Linked DNA regions of Homo sapiens. The protein of the gene in region 2 purifies or fractionates together with the protein of the main gene of each other region. This does not show direct contact. Each region holds a gene or a part of one and is shown on either strand. Other genes may lie near its edges.

The links. Proteins that work in one complex are often made in the same cells at the same time.
Region 1: the proteins of LMNB1 (region 2) and NCSTN fractionate together in Homo sapiens (co-fractionation; one large-scale study listed by BioGRID). This does not show direct contact.

The regions. Positions count from the first base shown.
Region 1 is NC_000001.11:160,346,383-160,349,882, reverse strand, and holds part of NCSTN (nicastrin isoform 1 precursor), read right to left. Parts: intron 885-3,500; coding exon 761-884; intron 335-760; coding exon 213-334; intron 1-212. UniProt on the Homo sapiens protein: Essential subunit of the gamma-secretase complex, an endoprotease complex that catalyzes the intramembrane cleavage of integral membrane proteins such as Notch receptors and APP (amyloid-beta precursor protein).
Region 2 is NC_000005.10:126,828,995-126,832,841, reverse strand, and holds part of LMNB1 (lamin-B1), read right to left. Parts: intron 149-3,847; coding exon 41-148; intron 1-40. UniProt on the Homo sapiens protein: Lamins are intermediate filament proteins that assemble into a filamentous meshwork, and which constitute the major components of the nuclear lamina, a fibrous layer on the nucleoplasmic side of the inner nuclear membrane.

The DNA of each region.
Region 1 (3,500 bases), on a different chromosome or scaffold from region 2:
AAGAGATAATGCCAGGTAAGGCAAAGGAAGGGGAAGCAGGAGAGGGAAGGGATGAGCAGCAAAGACAAATAAACACTACCCCCTGTTTGGGAGTCAGTTACTGACACTACACACAGACACAAACACATATACATCCCTCACAAAGACGTAAGACCGAAGCAACAGTGAGCCTTAGGTGACAGTAGGCTCTCCTGATCCTTTGGGACACTTACCAAACCCATCATTTGGGCACTGTACACTAGGAGAGAAGCCTGAGGCAGGACTGGGCTTGGTCAAGGACACTGCAAGACCAGCAATTCGGCTGGTTCTCCCTTTCAGCTTCTCCATTAAATCCCTGGAATAGGAAAGGAATTCCATGAAGGAACACAGGAAGGTATCAGACAGCCTGACATTCTGCCTGCAGGATGGAAACAAATGGGGAACTAGGGGAATCAAACTGTTGACTTATTTCTTCCCTTTCAGTCTCTAAATTCTGAGTCTGGACAATGATCTGCTCTAAAAAGTAGAGCTTTAGTGAGTAAGGACCCCAGGGAGGGAGGGGAGGGATGCCCAGGGTTACTCAGGGACAGGTAGGTGAAATTTAGCCCTAAGCTCAAGATCATTTCTTTTGATGGTACACCTTTCCTTCTGAGGACCACCCTGCCCTCTCCCCTGACCAGACCAGGGCAGCCAAGGGAAGTTTTCACTAATAAGTGTGAGGACTGTTCACTGAAACTTTCCCTCTATGGATGTTTTCCCAGCAGATACATCTAGTTCTTACCTGGTAAAATGCTTGCTCTCCAGCAGAACCATGTAAGGGGGGTTGGGGCCATCAGTCAATACCCACTGTAGGTCCTCCTCTTTCTCTACTACGTGGATAACCCCTGTGTCTCCACTAATTGAAGCTGCCAGGACAGAATGAGTCAAATTAAAGCTCCCATAGTTAACAATTCTGACTTTGCCTCACTGATTCTGCGTATCTTTTATCCCCTAAAGATGTCACAACATATTTGGGTGAATACAGGCACCTCTAGATTTGAACTGAAAAGCTGTTGCCCCAGCTCCATCTGAAGGTTATCAGGAGGGAATGGAATATAAAAGAGCACAAGAGGACTCATTATATGCCAGAAAGGTTCTGTGAACTTCATTTTTTTGCCCTCTGCCCTCAACCTTATTTAGCCATATACATAAGATTCTACAACAATAGACACCAAAGTTTTCAAACCTATATTTTCTCTAGGAAATGCCACTAAATCTCTAGCTCAGGGTTTTAGCTTTGAATCTTCCTTTGTAAAAACACATGCATACATGCCCTTGGCCTCAGGAGCTTTCCTGGATCGTCATTCCTTTTGCCCTTTTTGGGAATGACTTTACTTGCTTCTGGCCGGTTTTAGATGAGGTTAGTCAAGAACTCTGAGGTTTCTAAAACAGAGCTTCCCAATTGATAAGCCTCGAATGGATCAGAGATGTGCTCTCATTGGTTCTCCTCATTCCAGGAAACCTAGGGTTTCCAAAGTCACCTCCAGCCAGGAGCCTACTTATCATTTACCCCAGGATGCCCTGAAAATATCACCCATTTCTCTATGTGCCAGGATGCTATACAAATAACATTTTCTATGTGTCTCATGACATGATAAAGATTGGGAAGCACTGTATTAGAGGATGGATGACCCAGAGTCCAGAATACTTTGAATTCTACATAATTCAAGGCATTAGGTAATACTCCTTAAGTCCCCAGTGATCTGTGTGGAGATATCCTAGGGTCTCCCTGTGAGTCTTCTCCCTACAGAAAATTGGATATGTTATTCATCAATTATTTTAGACCAGTAGTTCTCAGCCCTGGCTGTATATCAGCATCACTTTAAATGCCCACTCAGCCTCCCAAAGTGCTAGGGTTACAGGAGTGAGCCACCATGCCCGGCCCTTGCCACAGCATTTAAAACATGGGAAAAGGAACAGATAGTGTGGCAACTAAAACATATATAACTTCGGCCGGGCACAGTGGCTCATGCCTGTAATCCCAGTACTTTGGGAGGCCGAAGTGGGTGGGTGGATCACTTGAGGTCAGGAGTTTGAGACCAGCCTGGCCAACATGGCGAAACCCCATCTCTACTAAAAATACAAAAATTAGCCAAGTGTGATGGTGCACACCTGTAATGCTAGCTACTCAGAAGGCTGAGGCAGGAGAATTGCTTGAACCTGGGAGGCGGAGGCTGCAGTGAGCTGAGATTGTGCCACAGCACTCCAGCCTGGGTGACATAGTGAGACTCTGACACACACACACACACACCCCAAAACTTCAACTCCAGCGAGGACAGGAAGACAAACTATGATACTGGACTGAAAAAAACCTGGATTCTAATCTGGGTTCCAACTAGTAATGGTGTAGTCTTAAGTAACTTGCTTATTTTCTCTGCGCCTTCAATGAGGTTTTCTACCTCTATTCATCTCATACTGTGGGGACAGACGAAAGAAGGAAGAAAGGATAGAAGGAGGGAGGGAGGGAAAAGAAACCTATTTAAAGCCCCCTTTGAGAACTTTAAAGCGTCTAAGAGAAGCAGAGTATTATAATCAGAAATCAAATCTGGGTATCACTTTTTTCTCCTTAGTTTTATCATGTTAGCTACACTAATTAAAAAGGGCGGAGCCTGCTCAGAAAAGACAGATATGACGAAGTAAGATTTGGAAATAAGTAGGTTGAAAAGGAACCAAGATCTTAATGAGGAAGTGGCCACAGTCCCGCTTACCCCCTCTTGTTTCTCTGTACTGGCACGTGGCTTTACCTCTAGAGGCTTTGCTTCCTACAGAGCTGTTTTAAGAACATAGAGTAGAATGACTTATTCCCAAAGGAGTTTTCTTAGAGCCTAGTTACAAGAGGTTGGGGTCCTGGCCTTCTGTACTTTATAGTGAGGTTCCAGCAAGACCAGCAGTCTGATCTCAGCCCACCCTGGACCTAGCTCTCTTCTACCTACAAACCAGTTCAGAAACTAAGTCCAGAGGGCTGGGCATGGTGGCTCATGCCTGTAATCCCAGCACTTTGGGAGGCCAAGGCGGGCAGATCACGAGGTCAGGGGTTCGAGACCAGCCTGGCCAACATGGTGAAGCCCCGCCTCTACTAAAGATACAAAAAATTAGCTGGGCACGGTGGCACGCGCCTGTAATCCCAGCTATTCAAGAAGCTGAGACAGGAGAATTGCTTTAACCTGGGAGGAGGAAGTTGCAGTGAGCTGAGATTGTGCCATTGCACTCCAGCCTGGGCGAGAGGGCGAGACTGCATCTCAAAAAAAAAAAAAAGAAACTAAGTACAACAAAAACTTTATTTGGGGCTGTTTGGAACCAGTCAACCTACTCCCAGTGCTTTGTATAGCAGGGACATGGGACAATTAACAGATACTATAGCTCAGGGAAAGATGGCTAAAAAAGTAGTAACTGCTTCCACGAACAAGTCCTTCACTTCTCAGTGTCCCAGTTTTCTCTTATCAAATGGGAAGAAGGCTTCAGGAAATTATACAGCACTTTTG
Region 2 (3,847 bases):
TAAAATTTGAAATAAATATATTAAATAAATAAAGTAATACCTGCTGGTGGAAAAGTTCTTCCTCAACAACCACTCCAGCTGCTTCTTCCTCCTCCTCCTCTTCTTCAGGTATGGTTGTTTTAAAGACTGTACTTCTTTGAGCAACCTCCTAAAAACAATAGTAGTTTAAGTTAAAAAACACACTTAAAATCACCAAATGCGGGGGAGAGGGACCTTTTCTTTGCTTAAGAGACAGCATTTCTTGCCAGGCGCAGTGGCTCACACCTGTAATCCCAGCACTTTGGGAGGCCAAGGCAGGCAGATCACCCGAGGTCAGGAGTTAGAGACCAGCCTGACCAACATGGTGAAACCCCGTCTCTACTAAAAATACAAAAATTAGCTGGCCATGATGGCACGTGCCTGTAATCCCAGCTACTCAGGAGGCTGAGGCAGAAGAATGGCTTGCATTGAGGTTGCAGTGAGCCGAGATCACGCCACTGCACTCCAGTGTCACAGCAAGACTGTCTCAAAAAAGAAAAAAAAAAGAGACAGCATTTCTGTTTATTATTATTACTATTATTCATCCCTTTTTTTGGAGACAGAGTCTCACTCTGTCGCCCAGGCTGGTGTGCAGTGGCATGACCTCGGTTCACTGAAACCTTCACTTCCCAGGTTCAAGCGATTCTCATGCCTCAGCCACCCCAGTAGCTGGGATTACAGGCATGCACCACCACGTGCGGCTAATTTTTATACATTTTTAGTAGAGATGGGGTTTTGCCACGTTGGCCAGGCTGGTCTTGAACTCCTGGTTTCAAGTGATCCACCCACCTCAGCCTCCCAAAGTGCTGGGATTACAGGCATGAGCCTCCACACTTGGCCCCTGTTTATTATTTTTAAAGGGGTGGGGCGGGGGGAGCTGTATATCAGTAACTTTCTGGTTACTAAACTGAAATTTCCGCATAATTAGTAGCAGTTCTTATACCTTCCATATTTCCTGCAGGGGAGGAAGTACTATCCAATTCGAAATATCTGCTGAGAAGTTTCCACTGCTTTTTATCCTATTCTGTTACTAAGAATTCTACAAATTATTTGACATACTAAATTCTTTATAAAACTCAACATGAATTCAGCTTAAAGATCTTAGCTCCTGGCAAAGATAAGGTGCTAAATAAATGCTGAATAAAATGAAGCTGGAAGCCAACTGTGATCTCAGGGACTACCAGCAACAGGACCACCTGATAAGTGAGAAGAAAGGACAAGCTCCTTTCATTCCTTTCAGCAACTGATACCTCTTGAATGAAACAAAATCAAGACAGATGAACACTGTACACTATTTACCAATAACGTACTAGTGAGGTTCCAATGTATTCTGTACAGAAATAGGTCTCCTATCATTCACTAAAGGTATGACAGAAAGCAACTATTTCCATTTTCTACTAAAAAGGTCAAATACAGATTACTTTCCTGTGGAAAATGCTGACTTGGCACAAATGCAGCAGTGTTTTTGCTTAAGCACAAGGCTAACCTGATGATCTGGCAGCAAGTAAATGAGTGTGTCCTCAAGAGTGCTGCAGAGCATATAATTTTATTCTGTACCCTGTCCTAAGGTCACTCAAGAAAGAGAATGCTACAGGGGAAGACACAATATTACTTCAGTAAAAGCTTATCTAACACAGACCAGCTAGTTTACAATGGCAGAGAAAGAAAATCAAAACCCAGTGTCACAGAAATGAGACTTCGATTTGAAATATGCCCAATAATGTGTTTTGTAAATAAAGTAAGGTGGCAGAACAGTATTTTGTGGGGATTTTTTATTACTCTTGCAGGACCAAGGAAGATGGACCATTTTGAGCCTCTCAATTAGCCAGTAACTTCAATTCTGTGAAATTGGTCTATCTTTACAAACAGAAATAGCCATTTCACAAATATCAGTGTTTTAACCAAATTAGTAATAAAAAAAATGTGATTCTTTAGATCAACCACCGTTCAAGCTATCAACTAGGAGATAGCAGCATATAAAGCAGAAAAATAAATTCTTAAAAAACTTTGAGAGTACCCAGCTTTTCTCAACTCATCTTAAAATGAGGAACGAGTCAAATAAAATCTTCTATAACAAAATTACCACATTCCAGCTTCTAGAAGCTCGTGGTATACATCCCATATGCAAACATTGGCTCTTAAGGCTCATGATGTAGCTTAAGACTATTAGCCTCAATGAGAACCTCAGAAAACAGCAACTTGCCTGTCTTCATTATTATGAATTACCTTAACATAACTACTTTAAGTGTAACCCTGCTGTTAAGCACTCTTCATTTGAAAACATGCAAAAACCAATTAATCTAATACAGAAAGCCGTATAAAAAATGGGTGAGCTAATGTCTAAAAATCTAGGTAGAAAAATAATAAATAATAATTTAGAACCAAAAAGCTGTTGGGAGGTTTAGATCAAGGAAATTGTTATTAGTCAAGATGCTACTAAATAAATGTGTTTACCCCAAGTGTCCTGAAAGGTTCACATAAATAGTCTTACATGACAGGCTTTACTCTGTCTATAAAATGCAGCATTGGTCCGCCCCTGCTGCGAGCCTTGGGCATATGAAGGTGCACTGATCTGTGCAGTGGTGCCCGGAGCTGGCTGCACCTGCTGATGCTGCTCATCACTGCACAGCTCTGTGCTCAGTCACATAATGCTGGAAGCCTGGCATCAGCCACAGTAGGAGTATTTATACCACAGAAATTAGCAAATGCTACAAATCAGGGCGATCTTATGTGGACGAAAGATGATTGTTTATATTTTATATATTGCATCTCTACATATATAAGTAATCATTTGCATATACAAAAGTTTCCATTATATCTATATTCTGGAAAGTTTGGAAGGACTGCTTTATTTTTTATTTCCCTCATAAAAAACATCTTGTTTTTGCCATGGTGACAATCGCTGTTTTTAACCACCCAGTGCCCCCTCCCTCCTGAATAAGAGCCCCTAGGTTTACCTGGGTACACACCCCCCATGGAGCACACGTGTGTCACAAGGAGCCCAGTGCAATGTGGCTGTAGAGGGGAGGAAGAAGTCTTGAGCTCTAATTCCGCCCTCCCAACTCCAGGAACTGGTTTAGAGGTGGGCACGTGACCCACCCTAGTCCAGTGTGAGTGAAGCCCAGGATGGGTGCCTCACAGGGGATGAAGTTTAGCTTCCCTCCATAATTCAAACACTCAATATCAGATTATTTGGTGGGCTGGATTGTCCATTCTTTTAACAAACTTCTACTGCCTTCTGCTTGCTAGGCTGTTCTGAGAGAGTTCTGTCAGGAACGAGGAGAGAAAGTGGTATGAATACAGGTCTTATTTCATTAGACAGTTACTTTTGGTATGTATTCATTTAATTGGGTAAGACCATGTTTATCTGTCAGTAGTACCGGACCACGTTAGCAACAATCTATAAACTCCACCATAAAGAGCACTTTTTTGAAAGATCACCTTCCCACAAAAAGCAAATAGAAAAGACGTACCTCTGGGAGCAGCCAGCAGCTATCCTGCGTCCCCAAGGGAGGCAACCAGAAGAGAAACAACAGACAGATCCCCGGGGACATGCTGTGAGCCACTGGATTAGGTCCACTATTTAAATTTTTTATTATGTGAGCCCAAAAAATTTCCATTATTTCTAAGCCAGTTTAATTGGGTTTTCTGACATTTCCAATGCCCCAGCAAGAAGAAAAAAAAAAACATAAGAAACAAAACTGACTAAGCCAGTTACCAACAATCTTACTGCAAACTGGTCTTTATGGCGGGGATTGTTTATAGATTGTTCCTAATGTGGTCTGGTCCCTACTGACAAATATGGTCTTATCGAATTAAATGAATAAAT